Linked DNA regions of Homo sapiens. The protein of the gene in region 1 purifies or fractionates together with the protein of each later gene. This does not show direct contact. Each region holds a gene or a part of one and is shown in the gene's direction. Other genes may lie near its edges. The genes, in order: EFL1, TXNDC5, ABCF2, PEX7, LPP, ITM2C and THUMPD3.

Region 1 (3,500 bases):
TTTTGTGTTTTTTGTAGAGACTGAGTTTCGCAACGTTGCCCAGGTTGGTCTCGAACTCCTGAGTTCAAGTGATCCACCCACTTTGGCCTCCCAAAGTTCTGGGATTACAGGCGTGAGCCACTGCACCTGGCAGACCCAAAAATCTTAAACTCGTTTAGTATGTTTTGCAGAAGCTGTACCATCTTCTGATTTACTAACAAACTAAGATCTTTGAAAGCCAGATATCTTAAGTATTAAAATCTTGAGAGGGGAAAAACATGACTACTAAAGATCTTTTCTTTTGCAACAAATAGAATCCTTTCCGTAATGAGAGGTCTGCTAAATGAGGTTTAAACTGCTCATATGTGTTACCATCCAAACCTGTGCCATATTTTATCTCAAGCAAATAACCATATCAGTCTGGGTAACCAAAGTTGTTCTGAAAATGATCAAAGAATAAGGCAACATTCTTGTACTCATAACACAAAAGGGCTTTTGTGAATTCTGGGTTCTTTCTGAGAAAGAAAATTATTTGGGGCTTTATTCACTGCTAACCATTATATCAAATCCTATTCCTGATTTTTCTCTCTTTGGGAGAAGCAACCTTTAAGATCCCAGGAGACATGAAGCCCTGGCACTTAGTAGCTCTTTGGACTTTTCACTGGTATTAGTTCACTGAGACTTAGTTTCTTTACATAGGTAAAGAAAGGGGATAATAATTCATACAGATTGTGAAGATTAAAATAACACAATTTTTTTAAATACAGTGCCCAGAACAGCACCTGGCACACAGTAGTTCTCTTATTCTCTCAAGATCATGGAACTGTTTCAGTAGTGAAGAGAATATAAAGGAGGATTGAGCCCTGGATGAGAGAATCGGCCAAATTATTAAGTTTCCTCTAACCCTGAGGCCCTTTGAGTCAATATGTGGTTAATTACATTCTTTTTAGGAAGGTTCTTTTGCTGATTAATTCCTGAAAGCAGAAATCTAAGTTTGTTTGTTTTTTTTCCCAAAAGAAATTTAGGCTTCCATCACATTAAGGTTTTTGTGAGACTGAGCGTCATTAGCAGCATTTGAAAAATAGCTGGGTTAAGGCCAGTATGCATTGTGAATCAAATCTCCAAATACAGCATGTCATATACAGTGCTTTTCAACCTTATTTGAATATAGCATGCCTATTAACAGCCATGGAATTTGTAGATTTGTTTGGGAAACACCAATCTAGACTATTCTCAGATGCTATTTTTCATTTTCATTGAGAACTTTCTTAAGGCGGAAGTAAGAGTTAAAATCAAATCTTAATCCCTCAAATCTTTGAAGAAGACCTAAGAGCTTTTCTCCAGCCTCTCCTACCCCGACAAATGCTTATACCACCACTATTTGAATACTTCTATTGATGGCCAGTGCACAGCCAGCTTCGTGATTTAATGGTGTTTTTTTCTATATTGAGCAAAATGTCTGTCACCTGCTAGTTTCCAATCATCTGTACCACCATTCATCTCTCTTCCATGCAACAACTCTTTTATGTATTTGAAATAAATCATTAGTTTTCTAGTTTTATATCCAGGAGAAAAACTCCAAATCCTTCACCTGTTTTTCTGTTAGGATTTCTGTATCCTTTCACCATTTCAGTTGCTGTCTTTTGGACATAATTTATTTGGTCAGCATCCCTCTTAAAGCAACTATATTTGAACACAGCACCTCACATACCCTCCAACCAGTAGAGAACATGTCTGTGTCTACACTGTTACCTCCTACATGAAATACAACATTCTTCTTTTAATGAAATTTAACAATTACGTCTTCTCATTAATTCATATGAGAAGTCAAGATCAACCCTATTTCTTTTTTTTCAAAACAAAGTTATGTTTTCCCACTCTGTTCCCCAAAAAGCAGAATCCAAATTTTTGGTAATTGACTAGACTGTAGAAATCATGTAGTTGTATGAACTCCTATATTTATTTGTGTATGAGTACTGAGTCTATACACTTAATTTTTTTCTTATGAGTACTGAGTCTATACACTTAATTTTTTTCTTAAGTTATATAACATAATTAGCATTACAACAGTAAACAGGAGAAAAATTTTAATGGCAAGAAAAAGAAGTCACATCACCACCATCTTAACACATTGATTTCTTATTCATTTTTTTCATGTGTCCTTGTCTGATGAGAAATAAAACTCAACAGGTAGAAAATCAAATGTTTCGATGAAGTTACGGTCCTTTACATCTATAACAGTCCCCCAATTATCAGCTTACCAATCATGTTAGAAAAAAAAAAAGCTTAGGTTAGTATTTTGTATTAGAAAGTCCATGTTGTCTCCCAAGATTTACCTCATACTTGTATAAACATGTACAAATGTCTATAGTGTTTCCTTAAAATTCTACAGAAAATTAGCATATGGCTTTCTAGTCTGCAATTTATGGAACGCAGTGTTTATATCCTCAAAAAGTTTAGTCATTATTTACCTTTTTCCTATAGTCTGGCACCTACCTTACTATTCATAATTTCTCAAAAGGGCAAATTCTCTTATTATGGTGAGATATAATTCTGGTCCTGGAGACTTGAACTCATTTAAGAAGGCCAAGCACTTAGTCATCAACTGCTGAGCTACCGTGAACTTCAGTGTTCTCCCACTTCAACTTGTTCCACTTGCTATAGTTTGTTCACCATTCTCCTCACTGAAGAGAAAGATAGGTAACATAGGTATTGCGAACCCCTATTTTCTTGCTATCCTCTGTAACATGATACTAGTTTCTATAAGTTGTAGACAAGACATGTCTCCTTATTTTGAAAGTATAGGTTGAGTATCCCAAATCTGAAAATCCAAAATCCCAAATCATCTAAAATTTGAAACTTTTTTTTTTTTTTTTTTGAGATGGATTCTCACTCTGTCACCTAGGCTGGAGTGCAATGGCATGGTCTCAGCTCACTGCAACCTCCACCTCCTGGGTTCAAGCAATTCTCCCACCTCAGCCTTCCGAATAGCTGGGACTACAGGCGCATGCCACCACACCTGGCTAATTTTTATATTTTTAGTAGAGACGGCATTTCACTATGTTGGCCAGGTTGGTCTCGAACCCCTGACCTCATGATCCATCCGCCTCAGCCTCCCAAAGTGCTGGGATTACAGGCGTAATCCCACCCTGCCCAGCCTTTATTTTTTAATTTGGGATGCTCAAACAGTATATAATACAAATATGCCAAAATCTAAAAAAATAAAAAATGTAAAACACTTCTGGTCCCACTCATTTTGGAGAAGAGATATTCAACCAGTATTGGAAAAAGCTCTTTGCACTGTCTTTAGCTCTTTTACTTTGGTACATACACTCAGCTTGTTTTGATTTTGAGCATCTTGGACATGCTACTGATCCACCTGAGTTGGTATCCTCTTCTTCCTTCTACTGTGCATGTCCTCTTAAAATAGGGGTTGAGGAGGGGCTTTCTTCCTTCTTCTGTCATTGAGATCATTCATGATTGATTTCTTTTAGACTCTCATTACTCTGCAAAGGAATTTT
Region 2 (3,500 bases), on another chromosome or scaffold:
TGCCTGCTGGGAGTCAGAGCCCCTCCCCCACCACACTTACTGTCCACAGTAACTTATCGTGAGGCCTTCAGCCTTTTCCCACTTTTGCTAAAAGTTATTTCATCCATACCAGCGCCCTGACGGCAGAACTCTAGCATGCTTTCCGCTACGGGAATGCATTTTCAGCTGGGATTGTCTTGGGCTCTGAGCAGGGTGTGTTTCCCAAATCACCTGTTACGGACCGACTCCGGCAGGACAGACCGACTCCGGCAGGCCTAGCCAGCGCCTCCCTAAGTGGGTCACTGCCACACAGCTGTGTCGTGTAGGTACCATGGTGGCTTCCTGCCCTTGCTGGCTTCCCATCAGTACTCTGATTAGGTTCCCAGAGAGCCTGTCTCCACCTTACAGTGCAGGATCTACTGTGCACCTGCACATGGTTTCAGCTTTGCACATTTTTTAATGGAAGTTGTTAACTTTTAAAGGAAGTTTTTCACCATTTTCTTCAAGTGCATTGTTGCTGTGCTGATGAGACAGTAGCTGTGAGCCTTAGTGTGGCAGAGTCCTGCTCAGACGCCAGGCCACATGCCACTGGTTAGTTCTCTCCCCGGCCACAGCCTGCTTTCAGTTTGGTATCAGCCCAATGTCAGGGTAGAACAGCTAAACACCTTCTGTGTCCAAATAATGATGCTGTGAGGGTTTGTTTGTTTTTTTCCCCGTAGCCAAGGGGGTGATGTTTCATTTTTTAAACTTTTTTTTATGATAAAATATAATACAGATCGAGAAAACAAATGTAGGGCTTAATGAATTTTTATAGCGTGGTCACACTGTAACTACTGTCCAGTTCAAGAAATAAAACTGCCAGCTTCCCGTGTCCCATGCAGGGCACAGCCCGCCCTCCCTTCTCCAAGAAGGCACTTGCCTGACATTTGTGGAAACCACTTGTATTAGTCCGTTTTCACTGCTGATGAATACACACCCGAGACTGGGCAATTTACAAAGGAAAGAGGTTTAATGGAGAACTCACAGTTCCACGTGGCTGGCGAAGCCTCACAATCATGGTGGAAGGCAAGGAGGAGCAAGTCACATCTTATATGGATATCAGCAGGCAAAAAGAGCTTGTGTAGGGAAACTCCCGTTTTTAAAACCATCAGATCTCATGAGACTTATTCACTATCACGAGACCAGCATGGGAAAGACCTGTCCCCGTGACTCAGTTACCTCCTACCTGGTCCCTCCCACGACATGTGGGAATTCAAGATGAGATTTGGGTGGGGACACAGCCAAACCATATCAACTCCTTTATGTGCACTGAAGTGCACATTCCTGAGCACTATAGTTCTATATGTGTATGTGTTTATATATCTTTTAAGGCTCTTTTAACCTGCATGTTCTCCAGACATCTCTTTATCTTTCTTGCTGAAGACATAGGTGGTTTGACCTGTAGAGCTCCCCGTGGTCCAGACTTTGCTAATTGTGTCCCCGTAGTGTGGTCTACATGTTTCCCTGATTTCTCTGTTTCCTGGAAATTGGTAGTTGGGTCTGGGGACAAAATCAGTTTCAGTGTGATGTTTTTTGGGGGCACAAGAAGACCTCATAGCTGGTGGGGGCACAGAACGTCCAGTTGTCTCTCTTTGGGATGTGGTCGACCATGACAGGCAGAGCCTGGGTCCGTCCATTCCTTAGGGCTGCCAAGTGCCGAGGCTCATTCAAGCGTCCCTTCATTTTTTAACCAAGAGAAACTCACCCTCATTTATCACCTGGTTATTCAGCGGTACAGTGCATATAGGAGAGGTGGGAGAAATGCCTGATTCTTTCCTTTTATTACAGTTTTCCAAATAATGAGTTGATTGCTGATTGTCCATCAAAGATGACAAATTTGGTTTTGAGTATTGTTATGAAGTCATGAACAGAAACACATTTGATGGAGTCCCTTTGTACCAATTAAAGTGCTCATGCCGAACTAAGATTTGCTAAGCAGGACAAAGATCTGATTCTTCAATTAACTCTCTAGTGAGGTCTGACATAAATTACAGTTCCTCTTTCCCCCGTCTCTGCCTTGGCTCTCCACTCCAGGCGACCACTTTATCAAGTTCTTCGCTCCGTGGTGTGGTCACTGCAAAGCCCTGGCTCCAACCTGGGAGCAGCTGGCTCTGGGCCTTGAACATTCCGAAACTGTCAAGATTGGCAAGGTGAGTGAAAGCCCTTATTAAACTGGAAATGGACTGCTTTGGGCTGGATTAATTAGCAGAGTGGCCCATTATTCATTCCGTGTGCAAAGTCGCAAACTTGATTTATTAATTCCATTTAGTGTGCCACTTGATAATTCATTTCACCTTCACAGATGGCAGTCTGATTTTGAGTTTTGCTGGCTTTTCCACAGCCTAGAGATAAATTATGGCCTCGGCTGCTTTGTTTATTTTGAAGAGATGGCCAAATCTGAATTGGCAGCCCCAGAGCCCGTTCTGCAAAGAGATGGGGTAGAGCCTTGTAGAATGTTCACTGGACGAACTTGGAGACCGTCCACGTTCGACCTCACCCAAGAGCTCTCTCTAAAAGGACCCTGGCTCTGTGCTCCCCCAAGCACGCAGAAGACCCTCCCTCAGTTTGCACTGTGCCTGGGATTCTTTCCAGCATTTCCTACTTTATACAGAGAAGCCAAGAGTGGTGTCTGACAACTTCTGTGTAACTGGATTTTCTGGAAATATCCAGTGTAGCTCCAGGGACATCACTTTTATTCTTCTACACTTTCCAGCACCCACCAGACACCATGCATAGATTTCCTTTCTTAAAAATCTCATTTTTCTACCTTGCCATGGGGCTGATTTGTATCCAAAAGTAATGCTGCGTGTCTAGGACTGAATGATGGTTAACAGGATGATCTACTTGGGATGGTGAGATGGTCAAAAGCATAAACTTGGGGGTTGGGTAGACCTGGCTGGCTGACCTTGGGAAAAACCTCTCCACGCCTCGGTCTCCCCCTTTGCAAAACTGAGCTAAGATCTACTGTGTGGTGTCTGGGCAGATGAAAGTACACTGCTTAGTGTGATGCTTAGCATGGGGCAGATGCTTGGTAAATTGTAATCACTTTTGTTGTCAGTTAAATGGATATTTCACTGTTGCCTCTTAAACGCTTACGATAATATATACTAATTATACATGTTATTATCAGTTTATATTTATTGAACATTTCGGGGAAGTAATTATAAAATAATCTTGTCTACTGTCTTACCCCATTCCTTGTATCCTTACTTAATTATTGTATGAAATTTTATGGGAGATTCTTTTAGGTTTATATCCATAGAGGATCCTAGCAGACCTAGGCGTGAGCAGACACAAGCCCAGGTGACCACGCTGAAGCCCTTCATCCCTGGCACATGTGGCTGGGTTACACTGGACCCTTAAAAATGCTTGTCCTCTCCCGACCTTGGGCTGAGGCCTCTTGTACTTCAGTTCCGCACCTTAGCTGCTCTCTGACGGGTCTTAGGTGTTGAAATAGTATTTTTACCCCCGTTTGCTGACAT
Region 3 (3,111 bases), on another chromosome or scaffold:
GTTCTTGTCTTGTTCCCTGGGTTGTGGGATGGGCTCCAGCTGCCCATGATCCTAAACTTGAATAAGCAGGTTGGAAAATGATAGAATGAATGAATATAAAATATTGTAAAAGAAAAATTCATAAAGTTTATGATAACCATACAAATGCAGTCAGCAAACCAGCCACATTCGTGATTATTTTTTAACTGTGTGGTGGTAGGAGGTGCTCCTTACAGTTTTCCCTTTGCAAACATTTATTCCTTGGTTTAACCCACCACTCTTAAAATTGCCATCACTCACTGATTCACCAAAAATTGGGTAAATATCTTACCTTGTTTTTATTAATCTTTCTTAAGTGTATGTATAGCTCACATGTATTTTGATGTTGAATATTAGAAGTGACTGGGTTTTTTGGCCAGGTGCCGTGGCTCACACCTGTAATCCCAGTGCTTTGGGAGGCCGAGGCAGGCAGATCACTTGAGATCAGGAGTGTGAGACCAGCCTGGCCACATGGTGAAACCCCCTCTCTACTAAAAATGCAAAAAAAAAATTAGCCAGGTGTGGTGGCGGGTGTCTGTAATCCCAGCTACTCCAGAATCTCTTGAGCCTGGGACAGAGAAGTTGCAGTTAGTCGAGATCTCGCCACTGCACTCCAGCCTGGGCAACAGAGCGAGACTCCCTCTTAAAGAAAAGAATCTTTGGATCTTTATTTAGAAGTTTGGTGATCTTTTTTTGTGACCAAAAATGCTGCAGGAACCTAATTCTTGTTTATATCAGTTAGCCTGTGGCAAAATTAGTTTTGCTATATGTTGTTTCACTTAAAGTGAAACTTTAAAATAGGTTCTGTTTCTAAGAACCTATCGATGACAGTGACAACTTTGAGGACTTAACTGTTTTTAATTTTAGAAAATGTATGTTGCACCTACATCCAAGTCCTTTGTTATACAGCATAGTGCATTCAGTAGACATTTTATAACTACTTAAATTGTATCTTTGCCTCTTGAGAACATCTGCTTCAGTACATCTTCCTAAATATTTTTAGAGTGGCCAGAATAGCAGTGTGCGAGTTGGTGATGTATTCTTTTTAGGAAGTTGAGTCTTGTTCAGTGTGAACATGTGTTTGTTTGCCTGCTCTGCCTATGTTTCTAACTGGGCTTCCTTTGTTTCATGCTTACGTTTCTACTTTTTTCTTCCTAGCTACTACCCACAGATGGCATGATCCGAAAACACTCTCATGTCAAGATAGGGCGTTACCATCAGGTACAGGCCTGGGGTTGGGATCCGGGGAATTGCCCAGGGTATAGGGAGGGGCTGTATCTGGCTGAGTTCCAGCCAGCCGCCCCCACCCCCTGGCAGGAATTCCAGCCTAGGTGGCTCCTACCTGCTTCTTGAACCCAGAACAGGTGCCTGGGATAGAAATAGGAAGTTACCTAGTAGGGTTTATTTTGAAGCGGGATGCCAGTCACACCCGGGTGGCTTCCATTTTTCCTGTAGCATTTACAAGAGCAGCTGGACTTAGATCTCTCACCTTTGGAGTACATGATGAAGTGCTACCCAGAGATCAAGGAGAAGGAAGAAATGAGGAAGATCATTGGGCGATACGGTCTCACTGGGAAACAACAGGTCAGTAAAGGAGGGTGTGGTGAGGATGCCAGATAGCTGGCAGACTGTGGCTGGGTGGGTCAGGGGATACTGTCCTGGCAGCCTGGGTTTGGAAGCTGTCCAAACCAGAGTCTCCTCCATTTGACTCCCCTAAGAACCTACTACCTTTTCTTTACTCTAGGTTGTTATGTAATGGAGCATTTTGAGGGGGCAAGGATAGCGTGCCAGTCTCTGACATGCCCTTGTGCCATAGTGCTTGAGGGCAAAGGAACTTGTAATCTAGAAAACAAATTTCTGGATTCAGATCTGGAAGGATCCAATTCATTGCCAAGAGAGCGAGAGGTGTGGGCTTAGTAATGGCAAGGGCTTCAGGTTTCCGGATGAGTCTCTTTCAGGCCTCAAGAGACTAGTGGGTCTCTCTGAGCCTCACTTTTTATAAATGGCGATGCTAATGGAGGAGTCAGGGAGAAATGAGGGAGAGATGAGCTGTGCTGTTTGGCGGGGATAATGCCAAGTTATATGTAGGTCACGGTTCTACTCAGGTGAGCCCAATCCGGAACTTGTCAGACGGGCAGAAGTGCCGAGTGTGTCTGGCCTGGCTGGCCTGGCAGAACCCCCACATGCTCTTCCTGGATGAACCCACCAATCACCTGGATATCGAGACCATCGACGCCCTGGCAGATGCCATCAATGAGTTTGAGGGTGGTATGATGCTGGTCAGCCATGACTTCAGACTCATTCAGCAGGTGAGGCCCTGGCCAGGGGGTGAGGCACAGCAGAGCTTCTAGGGGGTTGGGTAGGGTAGTCATGGCATGTGGAGGGTGCATAATACCCGCCTACTGAATTAAGAGAAGGGGCTCAGAGTGTAGACACAGGTGGTGAGGACCAGTTCTTATGCCTCTTTGGGGCTACTTAGAAAGCCTTAACTGAAACACTTCATTTCTTCAGTAGCTATCTGGAGATGTCAACCAACTTAGCATTTTGGGCCCAAATGGGAAAGAGAGTTGGGTAGAAAACGGTGCTTTTACTACTGTCCCAAGATTCTTCAGTCCAAAAATAGTATTCTAAGGAGGATTTTGATTAGACAGCTACCACAGTCATTTGAGAAAAAGTTGTTGCTCATTCCTCTGAAGCTCTGGGGAAGATGAGAGGTGGAGAAAAGAAGGCTGAGAGTGAAGCCTCTGAATAGATCTAGGCCCTGCCAGGGAGCTGACAATAGGAGTGACACAGCAGTTCCTGGCTTGGAAGGCTCCAAACCTGATGATGGTACCCTTGGGTTAGAACATCCCAAATAACTTAGAAGTAGTGAGACAGTGAGTTGGATATGGGTTTGGGGGGCGGAGTTTTCTTCCTAGACGCCCCTCAGGACAGTCTGCTGGGCAGAGGCAGGGACAGTGACTAGCCCAGGATTAAGTCCAGGTTTTGCTTTCTAGGTTGCACAGGAAATTTGGGTCTGTGAGAAGCAGACAATCACCAAGTGGCCTGGAGACATCCTGGCTTACAAGGAGCACCTCAAGTCCAAGCTGGTGG
Region 4 (3,500 bases), on another chromosome or scaffold:
TCAAGTAGCATGCTGTACAGATAGCCTCACATTGCGATTAAAAGTGGACTCTGCAATTAGGCTGCCCACGTTCAGATTTCATATCTGCACCTTACTAGCTTTGGGACTCTGGACAAGTTACTTAACCTCTCTGGGCCTTGATATAGTATCTACTTCATATAAATGAAGATTAAATGAAATAAAATACATAAAGTGCTTATGAACAGGATCTGACACTCAGAGTGTTCAATAAAGGTTTGCTATTTTTATTTTTGACTGTTTACATCAGCCTAGAGCAGGGGTTGGCAAACTACGTCATGTGGACCAGGACCAAATCTGGCCTGCAGTTAGATTTACAAATAAAGTTTTTTTGGAATCAAGCCATGCGCATTCATTCGGTATTGACTATGGCTGCTTGGTGTGTGCTATAAGAGCTGGGTTTAGTAGTTGTGACAGTGACCAAATAGCCTGTAAAATCTAAAGTATTTACCATATGGCCCTTTATAGAAGAAATGTACCTTTTTTGAAGAAACTTACCATTTACTATATGGTCCTTTGTAGGCGAAATTTAGAGGATAAAATCAAACTCTTTAGCTCTCAAGATCTTCAGTGATTGCTTCCAAACCAGCCTTTTTTCTATCCATAACTAACAGATGGCCACAGCAGCTCTTTGGTTTTCACTGGCCCTTCTATTCCTTTTATAGCTGCTGTCTGTTGCTGGATTGTGCTTCCTTTAGTGTTCCAACTACTCTTCTGTCTTTTGCGTGAATATGGGCAGAGGCAGGGCCAGGACTAGGGTAGAATGTGTGAGGCACTCACTCTAGGTACACAATTTAAGGGGGCCCCAAAAAACTTGATAATCAAGATAATTTGTTAATGTTTTTAAAAATAAAAATTAATGCAAAAAACCCATTATGAACAAAATATCGATATTTTACTTTTTTTGAAGCTTAATATTAATTTTATTAAACTTTTTTCCAGGTTTATTATGATTGGCAAATAAAAATTTGTAGGCTGGGCACGGTGGCTCATGCCTGTAAACCTAGCACTTTGGGAGGCTGAGGCGGTAGGACTGCTTGAGCCTAGGAGTTTGAGACCAGCCTGGGGAACATGGTGAGACACTGTCTCTACAGAAAATAAGAAAAAAATTAGCTGGGTGTGGTGGCACGCAAGCGTGACTCCAGCTACTTAGGAGGCTGAGGTGTGGGAGGACCGCTTGAGCCCAGGAGGTCATCGCTGCAGTGAGCTGAGATTGTGCCCACTGCACTCCAGCCTGGGCGACTGCGCAAGACCCTGTTTTGGAAAAAAAAAAAGAAAAATCTAAGTTGTACAGCTTAGGGTTTTGATCTAAATATATCTTGAGTAATGATTCCTACAGTCAAGCTAATTAACATATCCATCACTTGAATGGTTACCATTTTCTTGTGTGTGAGATAAGAACATTTCAGATCTACTCTCAGCAAATTTCAAGTATTCAGTAATACATTATTATTTATAATAGTTACCATGGTGTACATTGAATCTCTAGAAATTATTCATCTTATAACTAAAAGTTTGTATCCTTTGACCAACATATCCCCATTTCCCCCACCCCCAGCCCCTGGCAAACACTACTCTACTGTATGTTTCTCTAAGTTTGACTTTTTTAGATTCCACCTATAAGTGACGGGATCAGTATTACTGATGTTTTTTTTCCTCAGCCTCCAACATGGCTCAATATAGTACTGGGCAGCAGAGAGAAAGTAACCCACATGTAAGCGGCTTAAGCCCAGATACTCATACTTCCTACGTATATGTGGGAGAGAGTAGTAAGATTCAAAGTAACCTGCTGGCTGATCACCAATGTGATATACCAATGGCATATACTCAGGTCCTTGTCAGGACTAATTTCATAAAGTATAATTATGCACATATTTTGTTGAACTTAGTTTACAGCAGTGATCTGTGTATAATCTGTTGTATAAAATGAAAGAATGAAAACATTTCCAAAAGTTTTCAAGTAGTTCATTTGAAATGGTTCACTGAGAGCAGTGAAGCATATACTTTAGAATAGCAGCATTGGATAACTAAAACTGTTTACCAAGAGATCTGGAAGGATCACCTGGTTCCTGCAAGCTTTTTCTAAGAAAGGCCAGATAGGGATATTAATTGAATTTTAATGCTTTCCAATAAACATTGACCCAGCAAGCTTTTTTAGATGACTAACTTTCTAATCTGCTTTGACATTTCTTCGTGGGGCTGCAAACAGTGATTTGTTGGTAGGTTTTAAAATATGTATAATTTGTTTTAGTGAAGAAGGTTTGGAAGTATACTGTAGAATTCTGTGAAAGCAGAATGGAGTCTTATCTGTAAGGAATAAGTCTGGAGGAATGGACAAGATCAACTTTTCATTTCTCAGACACCTTGTTGAGATGGATAGGAATTATTTGATGTTTTGACATAGTAAATTAGTTGTTCTGCCTCTCATTGTTATGTAACAAGAGATAAAATGCAATGTTGAACTTGATGGTCTTTTGCTTTCTAAACACTTTTCAATGTTTTTAGGTGTATAGTGTTGATTGGAGCCAAACCAGAGGTGAACAGCTTGTGGTGTCTGGCTCATGGGATCAAACTGTCAAATTGGTATGTTAGCATTATTGTATTCAAAAACGAATATTCCCTTCTCTAGAGCTTCCACTAAATTTTCTTCTCTTTTTCCAACATACTTCTGTAGCTCTATGATTCGACAGCTGAGCTTTCTTTTAAAAAAAAAATTAAAACACTTATTAGAACTTAAAATTTTCTAATCTTTTGGCTGTGAACTAATAGTTAGCTCAGCATTAGTTTGGCCCTTAAATACAGTCTTGCTTTATATCAAAACAGATCTTTAAAAATCCTTGAGATCTGTATATATATTGTATGCATATATATAAATGTATATAGTTTATTGGTGTATGTAGTATATGTAAAAGCATAAATTTGAATTTATCCCTCAAGTAATTGATCTATTCATTTATTTGTAGTGGGATCCAACTGTTGGAAAGTCTCTGTGCACCTTTAGAGGCCATGAAAGTATTATTTATAGCACAATCTGGTCTCCCCACATCCCTGGTTGTTTTGCTTCAGCCTCAGGTAAATTATTCTGTATTTACCAAAAGCCTTACTTGTAGTGAATGGTGGCCTTGTTTTTACCATTAGGTGGCGCTGTGTACCTTAGCTTCAGAGAGAAAACAGGAGAATATTACTATTCTTTTGTGTTCTTAAGACTTTACTTCTTTTTTTATTTTTATTTTTTTATTTTTATTATTATACTTTAAGTTCTAGGGTACATGTGCACAACGTGCGGGTTTGTTACATGTGTGTGCATGTGTGCCATGTTGGTGTGCTGCACCCATTAACTCATCATTTACATTGGATATATCTCCTAATGCTATCTCTCCCCCCTTCCCCCACCCCATGACAGGCCCCGGTGTGTGATGTTCCCCATCCTGTGTCCAAGTGTTCTCATTGTTCACTTCCCACCTATGAGTGAGAACATGCGG
Region 5 (3,500 bases), on another chromosome or scaffold:
CGTATCTGTGATCAGATACAACTCAATTTCATGTATTGAGTTCGGTACTTGTGTACAAAGTGATTACTGTATGCCAGGCAGAAATGCTAGATACTGGTTACAAAGAAAACTGAGATAGGCTCTGCCTTCCAGAGTCTTCCTTCTATCATAGGAAAGAAACTGAAAGAGAAGATGCTAAGGCTCTAATAAAGTAATGAGCAAAGGGCTAATGGGAACATGGAGAAAGGAGTGACCAATCATCTAGAAGAACTGGTGAATGCCTATGGAAAAGAAGACATTTGGTTGGGTTTTGAGAAGTGAATAGGAGTTTACATGGTGGATAGGAGTGGAAGAGCTTTCTAGCCATAGGGACCTTGGTGTATGTGCACAGGCCTGAGGCCTAAAAGTATTTGAGGAATATAAATGTGTGTTTGGAGATCACTGTGGGAGATGGGGCTGGCTAGGGAGGGTTAGTTGATAAAGAGCTGATGGGCCAAGCTAAGGATGATGGCAGAGGTGGGAGGGAGCAGGAAGGCTTTTATTATTATTATATTTTGAGCAAAGGAGGGCCTTGTTGGATCTGTATTTCAAAGAGCTCTGGTGGCAGACTGAGGGCAGGTTAAGACCAGAGGCAGAGTCCCAGCTTAGAAGGCTGCTGAAGTATTCCAGGACAGGAGAAATGGGCCTGTATCGGGTCAGCAGCGTACGGAGGGAAAAATGGATTCCAGAAACTGTTTGCTGCTAGAATAATATCAGGTAGCTTAATTCCTACTTTTGTCCTTCTAATTGTTTGACAGCTTATCCATCTTGGCTGGGGAAAAGAATTTTTTTAATGTACACCAAAGTTTGTAGTCAACAGGAGAAGCAGCAAGCTGCCAGCCAAGCATGGACTGGGGCCTTCTTGGCCAGAGTGAGCTGATCCCTTGTTATACAGATGAGGAAACTGAGGCCCCAGAAAAGGGACAGAGCTGCTCAATCACACCCTTGTCAGCTGAAGTGGAGTTGGGTCACAGCCTTTACTCCTAGGCCAGCCCTGTTTCCAGGTATTTTTCATTCTCAATTTCTGCTGTACCTCACACCTTCCTTCCCCACTCCACCCTCCACTAGGGGTTTCTCTGCTTTGGAGAATTTTAGGAGAGGATGTAACTTGGAAATTATGGTATCTTAGGCTTGAAACTTGCGCTTCATACTTAGAAAGCAATCAGATTAAGATGGTTCAGTTTGAGTGTGTGTGGTCTGGCGATTTATTTATGTAACTGCCATGGATGGCTGCCATTGATGCTTGTTTGTGAGAACCAAGCTATGCTTCCATGCTAATATCAAGGTTCCTTGCTTTTGACAGCTCCCTGCCCCTGCTCTCTACCATTCTCCATTAATATTTACTTATTTTTGCTTGCCTAGAAGTTTTTAGGCAATAGTTTTAGATCCATTACAAGGTAGATCCTCCTGTGTTTGTCTTCCCTATTGAACCTGCCCATCACAATGTATCTCACAGAAACCATGAGTATTTCATAGCCTTCATAGCACTTTTAATGTAGCAAATACATTTTATAATCATTTGTATTACTTTGTTCCCAAATATAATGCAAGAGACAAGTTGGCTAGATCAGTCTTATCTTGCAGATATTGGTCGGGAGTTCAAGGGTCATAAAACTTTCCTAACTGGGGTGCAGGGCCTTAAGTGGCAGAGTGAGAATCAAACCCCCCTCTCCAAAACTCCTGTCTTGTTCCTTAACTTTTGCAAATGAGCATAGTTGATGTGAACATCCCTGCAAGCCCTTTACACAGGTGAGAAGTAGTTATTATTATTTCACTAGTACTAATTAGTAGCATTAGGTGACTATATTCAAGGCTTTGGAAGGCAAGACTAAAAATCAGATTTGGGACAGGGAGTTCAAAGATCTGGGCTTCACCATACCGGATCATTTTGGCAATAGTGGTGATTTTTGGTGTAGGGAAAACAAAGACCTATGTTTGGGCTAACCACAAGCCCTGTGATCTTGAACAAGTTCTGGAACATCCCTGAGCCTAAATTACCTTTCAATGGAGATCCTGTGATCTATCACAATGCATTTGTGAGAATCAGGGGCATTTCTGTGATGGCGCTTTGTCAGTGGTAATGCAGTCTGTACATGTGTCCGATTCTGGGTGCCCAGCGGGGCATCTGGCACACAGTGATGACACCTTACTGTGCTTGTGGGGCTGAAAGGATTTAGACCTAGACAACTCCTAGTTCAAGTCCTCGTTGTGCTGTTTAATACAGGGTGCTCCCTTGGTGGTCACAGGCACTATTTGTTTTCTCCACGTATTCATTTTTAGATCTCTTATTAATGAGGTCACCACAGTTGAGTATAGTGTGCCCGCAAAAGTGGGATGAGTGCCACAGACATTCACGGGCATTTCCAGGTTGTGCGCTGATTTGTCACCAGTGGATGGCTGTGCAGTGTCCCTTCTTCCACTGCCACCATCCCACCTTCTCTTGGGTTTTGTTTGCACTGTTTGTATCTGTTACCCGTGGAGGGTCTGCTTCTACTGTTGTAATTGCTTGTGTTGTGACTTTGCATCATAGCTGGAGATCCCTCTGTAGTTCAAATGGAAAGCTGGTGTTGAAGGTGAAACCAGGTCTTCTTCAGAAACTTGTGTGGGAACCTTTCATGGGCTGGATAAGCATGAGGATCAGGACAGGGCAGGGTCACTGACCTTAAAGGAGGATGCTTTGACCTGCCTCCAGCATGCACCCTTCCTGCTGAAGCCATTGTTAGTGTCCCTTAATTACTCAGGCCACCACCCAGCAGCGCAACTGTCAACTTGCAGAGGACTTCAGTGGTATCAGTAGTGTTCCTTTTTACTCTCATAGGTGTCCTGATTCGGAGGATACGTTATATGGTCACCCTACTTATAGGTGAATATTGAGTGAGGTAGTGTAAATAATGTGCATAAGGCCAGGCATAAGGCAAGGACTCAACAAACATCCACTGTTTTTGTTAGAGGGGGTGCTAGGTGCTCAAGAAATGTCTGCTGAGTGGCCAGGCATGGTGGCTCACGCCTGTAGTCCCAGCACTTTGGGAGACTGAGTTGGGTGGATCACGTGAGGTCAGGAGTTTGAGACCAGCCTGGTCAACATGATTTAACCTCGTCTCTACTAAATATACAAAAAAAAAAAAAATTAGCCAGGTGTGGTAGTGGGCGCCTGTAATCCCAGCTACTCGGGAGGCTGAGGCAGGAGAATCGCTTGAACCCAGGAGGCTGAGGTTGCAGTGAGCCAGGATGGCACCACTGCACTCCAGCCTGGGCAATAGAGCAAGACTCTGTCTCCAAAAAAAAAAAAAAAAGTCTGCTGAATAAACTACATTTATAGAAGTGGAATTTAAGTTTGTTTGAAGGGTATGTCAAGATCGTAAGCACTTACTATTTATGAGGGTTGATAAAATCATGTTAATGTATATCTATAATATAAGAGAGTGCCGTGGGAGAGGCGCATGTGAAGGACTGATGGACTTGTGAATTGCTGGAGCCTTTTG
Region 6 (3,981 bases), on another chromosome or scaffold:
TCTTTCCCCACCTGTCTGTCCTCAAGGTTGCTAGGTTCATCCAAGATCTGAGCCAAGAGGTCCGGGTCTGGGACGTGGGCGCTAAGGGCCCAAGGCAGCTGCAAAAGACCTGAAAGGTGAGAAGAGAGATCAGTGGAGGACCCCGGACTGTCCTCAAGAAGCGGACGGACTCCCCTGCCCTCCACTGGCAGCCCAACAGCAGAACCAAAGCGGACCACTCAGCACAACCTGTGTGTGTTGCTGGGCGCTGTCCCTGGCCCAGTCTGGACCAGGAGCAAAGAGGAAAGATTCAGGGCGTTAGTGCCAAGAGCAGCCATCCCAGCAACAGAAGCCCCTGCTTCCCCAGTACCCGTGATACTTGGGAGGAGCAGAGTCTTGAGTGGAACCCGAGCCTCTGACACCCGCCCTGGGGGTCTTCCCTCCACTCTCGCCAGGGTCCTCCTGGATGAGTGAGACAAGGGCAGTTCAGGAGGTCACCCAATAACTGAGGTCGCAGCAACACGAAGGAGCCAGGGAGCAGGGGCGGCCTTCCCTTCTCCACTCCAGGCGGCTCCAGCGTGCACCCCAGGACCCCCCAGGAAGGTTTTGCAGGAATAAAGAATGAAGGCAGAAGCAAGATGGAGGATGAAGGAGGCGTGGATGGCTTCAGAAGGCAAGACGGAGGCAGCAGTTTGGCGCCTGTCTCAAAGCCTCCTCCCCGCGCCAAGGACAGGTCGGAGGAGGGGGGCGTGGGGACAGGTAGAGCGGAGGCTCCAGCGTTTCTAAAGGGGAAGACCTGAAGTGGGGCAGGAGAGACGGGTGAGTTGTCTGGAAGCTGCATTTGCCTGGCAAACACTGGGTTAACAAAGACTTGCGTTGCGGGGATGCTGGCCTTGGACAGGGAATGCGAAGGGATTATGCTACGGAGAACGGATCCGAGCGTGACGGCTGAATGAATGAGTGAGCGAGTGAGTGAGTGAGTGAGTGAGCGAGCGAGTGAGTGACTGTGCGAGCGAGCGGCAGAAGGAACTCCGACCCGCCCCAGGTGCGGAGCGGCGCGCCCGGCAGGGGTCACTGCGGGCCCCGCGGGCGGGAAGGGGGCGCAGGCGCGGCGGGCGCCGGGGCCCTCCCGCGGGGACGGGGCGGGGAGGGCTGGGGGTGGGGTTAGAGAGAGGGACGCGAGCGGGATCCAAACTTCCGGTGCCTGCAGAGCTCGGAGCGGCGGAGGCAGAGACCGAGGCTGCACCGGCAGAGGCTGCGGGGCGGACGCGCGGGCCGGCGCAGCCATGGTGAAGATTAGCTTCCAGCCCGCCGTGGCTGGCATCAAGGGCGACAAGGCTGACAAGGCGTCGGCGTCGGCCCCTGCGCCGGCCTCGGCCACCGAGATCCTGCTGACGCCGGCTAGGGTGAGAGGGTCTGGGGCTCAGGCGGTGGGGCGGGGGACCCAGGCTCACGACCCAGGCGCGCCCCGTCGGCCCTGGGGACTGCCCGAGGCGCGTCAGGGCCCCAGAGCCCGGGGTGGAGCAGGGTTGGGAAGTCTCGAATGGTTGCTTATCCCAGAATGAGGAGGGGGCTTAAGTCCCGTACTAAAGCGGCAGCCAAAAGCTGAAGTCCGAAGAGTGGGAGGCGTCTGGTTCTGGTCTTCAGGTGGAGAAGTGCTCGAGGTCTCTTCCAAAAGTGGGGGCCCCCTCGCCGCCTTATAGGGGGAGGGGGCTGGTCCGAAGAAGTTCGAGGAATGTTGGTGGGGGGGTACGCGTCTGGTTCCAATCAACTGGGAAAGCCGCGAGTCGAGTCCCCAGGTGGGGGATGGGAGGAGGGTTAGACGTAGTTTTTCCAAAGTAGGGCGGTGGGACCTGATTGGCTGGGGAATTGGGGGTGGGGGGGTCTGGTACCAACGAAGAGGGTGGGGCCGTTGATTTCCTCCGAAATTGGGGGCTGCGAGGGACAGAGGATGTGCTGCTGGCCTGCACCGGAATTGACAGACCAGAAAGTGATGAAATGGAAATCAGCCAGAACCGACGGCGCTGCGGCCTCTGGACGTCGGGGGTCCGAGGCCGGGTGCCCCCTTCCCACCCCACGCCCTGCCGTCTGGGCCTCCCTGCTCCCCTCTCTTTTCTCCATTCCCAGCCTCTCGCTGGGCTGTCCCCCGACCCCACGGGGAGGGCTCCCAACTGCCCCAGTGCCCTTGCATCCTGGGTCCCCGGGCTCTGTGCGCGTTCCCCCACCCCTGTCATCCCCCTCCCCTACCCCGGCTTCCTCCACTTTCCCTCTGGCCGGGGGGGAGAGAAGGCATTTCCGCCGTGGAAAACTGTCTGAGCTGCGTGCCTTGTGTCCGGGAAGGGCCCGCAGGGGGCAGAACGCGTGGCGGGCAGGGACAGGGAGGGAGGGAGAGCTGGCCCAGCCAGGTTTTATTGTGCCTGGCAAAGGTGTCTACGTGGGCGCCGCCCCCAGCGGTCTTGTGGCTTACCAAGCCCATGTCCTCCCCGCCTCCCCACCCCGCATTGAGGCAGGACTGAGAAAGTCTTTGTCCACTGCTTCCCCACTTCCAGATGCAGGCTTCTGAAGAGTCTTCCTGAACGCCTAGCCCCCTCCCCAGGTTTTGTGGCTCAGGTTCAGTCTTGCCTGGGGCATTAAGGGGCCTGCAGAGGATGACCTGGACCCTGGAGGAGGGGGCGCCGGAGAGGGCCGTCAGAGTTGGGTGTCAGCCTGGGCAGAGACCCTGAGTGAGGAATGCCAGGAGACTGAGAACCCCCTGCCCTTTTATGGTGGTCACTGCAGCAACCAGTGGCTCAGAGCCACAAGAGTTCAACAACCACCTAGGCGAGGTTGGGGGTTGCTGTGCACCCCATGAGAGCAGCTCCCCCCTTTTCATCTGAAGCTTAGGTGGAGGGGGCGCTCCATATTTGAAGAAGATGGTTCTGCAGCTTTAAAAGTTTGCAAGGGGTTCTTCAAGACTCCTTTTCTTTGGAAGGGAAGCTGCCCTCCACTCAGCCTGGGGAGGGGCAGGGATGGGGGCAGGAGGCAGCACGCTTGCCCATCTCTTTTCCTAGCCACCTCTTCCTGGAGATATTTGAGGAGGGAGGACCAGGTCAGACAGTGGGAGGGTGTTATTCCAACTCCATCAGAAGGTCCCCCAGATTTTGCAGGAGCGGCACATTCTCCAGCCGCAGCCTGCTGATGGCATGGGTTTGGGCAGTCTGACAGAGACCTGCATCTCGGGGCATAACTGACATCCTAGCTTCTGGCTTCTCATCAGGCTCTGAAATTGAGCGTCCTTTCTTCCCCCTCACCCAGCATGAAATGGAAATATCAACATCTTCCTGCGTGCTGTTTGTAATGGCCTTGAGCCTGCTGAGTACCTCCTCCCTCAAACTTTGTCAGTTGGGCAGGGTCCCCTCCCTCTCTAATTGGCAAGGGGGAGCTTAGGACTATGCGATCTGGGGAAAGAATTAGAATCCTGGCATCTTTAGGACAGAACTGCATGTTAGTAAACTTTCACAGCTTCCCAAGGCCCTGGCGTGGTGCAGAGGGACTTTAGGTGTTGCAAGTTGGCTCTGCCCATCACCTGCTAGATTTGGAGCCTTGGAAACAGTTCACTTCTGCGGGCCTCCTGTTGCCCCACTTGGCCAACCCGCACATTTCCTCCTTACCCAGTTTCTGGCAAGGAGCCAGGCCTCGTCTCCTGCCCCCAGCAGTGAGCAGGCAGGAGGCCCATTTCTCAGCTGTAGCTCTGTGAGCCGAGGGATGGCAGCCAGGAGGCTGCTTTCTCAGGGCAGGGCGTGTAGATTTTGTCCCGTACTGTTGGGAATGCCCAGGAAAGCTTATTAAAACGTTTCTTCTGGCTGGCAGTGACCCCAGAACCCTCCTTGGTGTCTGAACTGGACTCCAAAACAAGATTTATTTTATTTTATCTATTTTATTTTATTTTATTTTTTTTTTTGAGACAGAGTCTCACTTTTACCCAGGCTAGAGTTCCGTGGCACGATCTTGGCTCATTGCAAC
Region 7 (3,500 bases), on another chromosome or scaffold:
TCTATTGCCATGTGTTGAGGAGTAGGAGCAAGGAGATAGAGCAGGACCAATGTTACAATAAGAACCCACTATTAACCCCCAAGAATCTGTCTTGTGAGGGAGATAAATAGTTATCATACATGCGATAAGTCCCACACCAGCACATGAAAAGATTAGAAGAACAAGAGAAGGGAAGAAACCTACTGACCTGTTTCAGGGTGGGATGCTTCATAAAGAGGATAACAGTTAAGCCACTAACAGTAATGCCTCTAATCTTGAATCTGTTACCTACTAGTTTTGTGTCCCTGGGCAGGTAACTTCATGTTTCCTTGCATCAGCTTACCTTTAAAATGAGAATAATGATAATTATCTAACAGGGTCCTTACTGAGGATTCTGTGAGATAATGCATGGAAAGAGCTTAAGTCCATGCCCAGGAAATACTAAGTGCTCAAAGTAAAGCATTTTTTTTTCCTTTTTTTATTACCTAGTCCCACAGAGCAATTTTTTTATATCAAGATTAGCTTTAAATTCAGAAGGAAAGGAATACTGAATGTCTCATTGCCAGTAACCTTATATTGATGCATGTTTGACTTGAGACATTTTTGAGTCTTTTTAATGTAATACAGGTTTCTGTTGAAAACAACACTGTTGTCAAAAAGTATGCATGAGCGTGTGTGTGTGTGTGTGTGTACACATGTGTACTTTAAGATGTCTGCAAACTAAATTTCATCTGAGAGTGAAATGGGATTTTGGAAGATAGTCAAAGGAGATTTAGTTATAAGGATTTTTTTTCCCCAAGTAATGGAATATACAGTCAACATATCATTATAAATTGATTTTATTTATTTATTTATTTATTTTTGAGACGGAGTCTTGCTCTGTCACCCAGGCTGCATCTTACATGATCTTGGCTCACTGCAATCCCCGCCTTCTGGGTTCAAGCAATTCTCGAGTCTCAGCCTTTGTACTAGCTGGGATTACAGGCACCCACCACCACGCCCAGCTAATTTTTTGTATTTTTAGTGGAGACGGGGTTTCGCCATGTTGGCCAGGCTGGTCTTGAATTCCTGACCTCAAGCGATCCACCCATCTCAGCCTCCCAAAGTGCTGGGATTACAGGCGTGAGTCACCGTGCGCGGCCACAAATTGATTTCTAAAATATGTGTAGATTGGTGTTCCTTCGGGCTAGTGTGGTAGGTCCTCAATCTTAAAGCTTCAGGAATCATCAGTATAGAAGCCTCAGCTTTTGAGTGAGTCTTCACATAGGCTGTTTTCTTTTCTCTAGGCTCTGTGATCCTCTACCTTATGATATAATAGTCGATCCAATGTGTGGAACTGGGGCAATACCAATAGAGGTAATCATATTTCTTTAGCTTTTAGATAAGAGTGATACATCCAGAATATTCTAGACCTAATGGGCAAATTAGACATAATGAAATCTCCATGGTTGGATCAGTGGACCCAAGAGTTTTAAAACAATTAACAATAGAAAGTGGAACTTTTTTGTAAAGAATGTAACTACTTATTTCAAAGAGCCATGTGCCACTGGCCTAGATACATTGTTAGTGACATCTATTCACTAGATTACAGAGGAAGCTGAGAATTACAAACTGCCGATGAGTCCTCTTTGTGTAACAGACAAGCTGGTAGACTTGAATGGGAAAAGATAATTGAAGGCATAAGCATAAACTGGAGGAAGGCAATTTTCTTCTCTGTAATCCACTTAAGTTCCTAGAGGGAATAAGTATAGTTGTAAAAAGGGGAAACTTATGAACATTACTTGGATTTTTTAGGAAGTCTAACAAGCTTAATACCAAATGCTCTTAGTTTTCAAAATTACCATGATATTGAGAGGACTCATAAAAACTGTGTAAAGCAAAGCAAGAAATGGAAAGGCATTTTCTAAATGGAGAATATTTCACAGTAGATTCCCCTTGAATAATCAGTATCATCTATATGTTTTTAAAGAATTTAGAAGAGGGAGCTCCCAGTAAAATCACTGAAGTTTGTGTGAAACATAGTAGTTCTTCCATATAGTATACTGACAGCCAATTTGAATAAACTGCAGGGAGACACAGCAGATTATATGATTGGGTAGAAACTGGACAGATGAGCAAGTCCAAAGCAAGCCCACAAGGGGAGAAATAATCCAAACTGTAATTAGAAAATGGTATCTGTTCTGGGAGTTAAAATCCAAGACTGAAATCATAGAAGTCTACATGTGACTGTGTTCCGTGAAAGCTAGAGAAATTACTGTGGCTTAAAGAGACTGCACAGTAAAAACCCAGTCCTTCTTGTGGCCAAGAAGGATTCTGGGAAGAAAGCAGAGTGTTGTTTTCTAGTATGAAATCATGATATGTGTATGAAATAGCAGGTAAGGTCACCGCATGTCAAGAAATACACAACAGAGCTCCGAGTAAAAATAAAGGCCGAAAAAAATTAAAACATGAAGTTTGAGCCATTTCCATGTAAGAGTAGACATGCAGATGTCAATGTAGAAAAACCTAAGCCGATATATGATCAAAATGAATAAAATTATGAATAAATTGACAAGGTATATATAAAGATTTGTTCACCAAAGTATAAAATACTTGATCTAGAATAATTTTTTTTTTTAATTTAGAAGTGTTATGCTATAAAACCCAATTCTTTCCAATGCTGAAAATCCAAATAGGTTTAGGAAAAAAAAAAAAGAATATTTGGGAATCGGAATCACTGAGAGCCTTCCTCAAACTCTAGGTCCCCTCTACATCCCCACCCACCCAAAATTCTGGGATACTTCAACTTCCCTTTTGTTTGATGTCATCGTAGGATTGTAGACAGGGTATGTTATCACCCTCAAGTGTCTGGGCAAAAGAAAAAGTTATGAAACACTGCACTCATGGATGAGAAGTATGTTACTGTTCACAAAGGAACACAAAGGTGTTTGCTACTCACCCCTAAGCAGAGGCAGACCTTTCCCGGCTTTCGTGTCAGAAACCTTCTGTTAATCTGCATAGAACATTGTTCAGGCCTAGGGTCACGTCACCTCATTCCACAAATGACATGTGACAGCTTGGTATTTATGTTCTGCTGACAGGTTTTTTATTTATAATTACAAAATCCTTCCAGTGATATGGTGGTTACCATTCAAAAGCCTATCATACAAAGGAAATTGCATTTTACTATTATTTTTTTGACCTGGGGTCTTGCTCTGTCAGCCAGGCTGGAGTGCAGTGGTGTAATCTCAGCTCCCTGCAACCTCTGCCTCCCTGTCTTAAGCCATTCTCCCACCTCAGCCTCTCGAGTAGCTGAGACTCAGGTGCACACCATCACACCCAGCTGATTTTTGTGTTTTTGTAGAGATGGGCTTTCACCATGTTCCCAGGCTGGTCTCAAACTCCTGGGCTCAAGAAATCCTCCTGCCTCAGCTTCCCAAAGTGCTGGGATTTCAGGTGTGAGCCACCATGCCCGGCCGGAAATAGCATTTTATTTTGCAATTTTCAAATATATCAGATTATGTAAACTCCCACAACCACAA

What was found.
Region 2: the proteins of EFL1 (region 1) and TXNDC5 fractionate together in Homo sapiens (co-fractionation; one large-scale study listed by BioGRID). This does not show direct contact.
Region 3: the proteins of EFL1 (region 1) and ABCF2 fractionate together in Homo sapiens (co-fractionation; one large-scale study listed by BioGRID). This does not show direct contact.
Region 4: the proteins of EFL1 (region 1) and PEX7 purify together in Homo sapiens (co-immunoprecipitation; one large-scale study listed by IntAct). This does not show direct contact.
Region 5: the proteins of EFL1 (region 1) and LPP fractionate together in Homo sapiens (co-fractionation; one large-scale study listed by BioGRID). This does not show direct contact.
Region 6: the proteins of EFL1 (region 1) and ITM2C purify together in Homo sapiens (co-immunoprecipitation; one large-scale study listed by IntAct). This does not show direct contact.
Region 7: the proteins of EFL1 (region 1) and THUMPD3 fractionate together in Homo sapiens (co-fractionation; one large-scale study listed by BioGRID). This does not show direct contact.

What each region holds. Positions count from the first base shown.
Region 1 is NC_000015.10:82,147,735-82,151,234, reverse strand, and holds part of EFL1 (elongation factor-like GTPase 1), read left to right. Parts: intron 1-3,500. UniProt on the Homo sapiens protein: GTPase involved in the biogenesis of the 60S ribosomal subunit and translational activation of ribosomes.
Region 2 is NC_000006.12:7,890,289-7,893,788, reverse strand, and holds part of TXNDC5 (thioredoxin domain-containing protein 5 isoform 1 precursor), read left to right. Parts: intron 1-2,052; coding exon 2,053-2,168; intron 2,169-3,500. UniProt on the Homo sapiens protein: Protein disulfide isomerase of the endoplasmic reticulum lumen involved in the formation of disulfide bonds in proteins. Can reduce insulin disulfide bonds.
Region 3 is NC_000007.14:151,214,095-151,217,205, reverse strand, and holds part of ABCF2 (ATP-binding cassette sub-family F member 2), read left to right. Parts: intron 1-1,176; coding exon 1,177-1,239; intron 1,240-1,473; coding exon 1,474-1,602; intron 1,603-2,123; coding exon 2,124-2,327; intron 2,328-3,014; coding exon 3,015-3,111. Other genes in the region: ABCF2-H2BK1 (ABCF2-H2B protein), read left to right, coding at 1,177-1,239, 1,474-1,602, 2,124-2,327, 3,015-3,111.
Region 4 is NC_000006.12:136,843,092-136,846,591, forward strand, and holds part of PEX7 (peroxisomal biogenesis factor 7), read left to right. Parts: intron 1-2,523; coding exon 2,524-2,601; intron 2,602-2,981; coding exon 2,982-3,090; intron 3,091-3,500. UniProt on the Homo sapiens protein: Receptor required for the peroxisomal import of proteins containing a C-terminal PTS2-type peroxisomal targeting signal. Specifically binds to cargo proteins containing a PTS2 peroxisomal targeting signal in the cytosol.
Region 5 is NC_000003.12:188,160,657-188,164,156, forward strand, and holds part of LPP (lipoma-preferred partner), read left to right. Parts: intron 1-3,500. UniProt on the Homo sapiens protein: May play a structural role at sites of cell adhesion in maintaining cell shape and motility. In addition to these structural functions, it may also be implicated in signaling events and activation of gene transcription.
Region 6 is NC_000002.12:230,863,761-230,867,741, forward strand, and holds the start of ITM2C (integral membrane protein 2C), read left to right. Parts: upstream 1-1,181; 5' UTR 1,182-1,265; coding exon 1,266-1,385; intron 1,386-3,981. UniProt on the Homo sapiens protein: Negative regulator of amyloid-beta peptide production. May inhibit the processing of APP by blocking its access to alpha- and beta-secretase.
Region 7 is NC_000003.12:9,376,554-9,380,053, forward strand, and holds part of THUMPD3 (tRNA (guanine(6)-N(2))-methyltransferase THUMP3), read left to right. Parts: intron 1-1,265; coding exon 1,266-1,335; intron 1,336-3,500. UniProt on the Homo sapiens protein: Catalytic subunit of the THUMPD3-TRM112 methyltransferase complex, that specifically mediates the S-adenosyl-L-methionine-dependent N(2)-methylation of guanosine nucleotide at position 6 (m2G6) in tRNAs.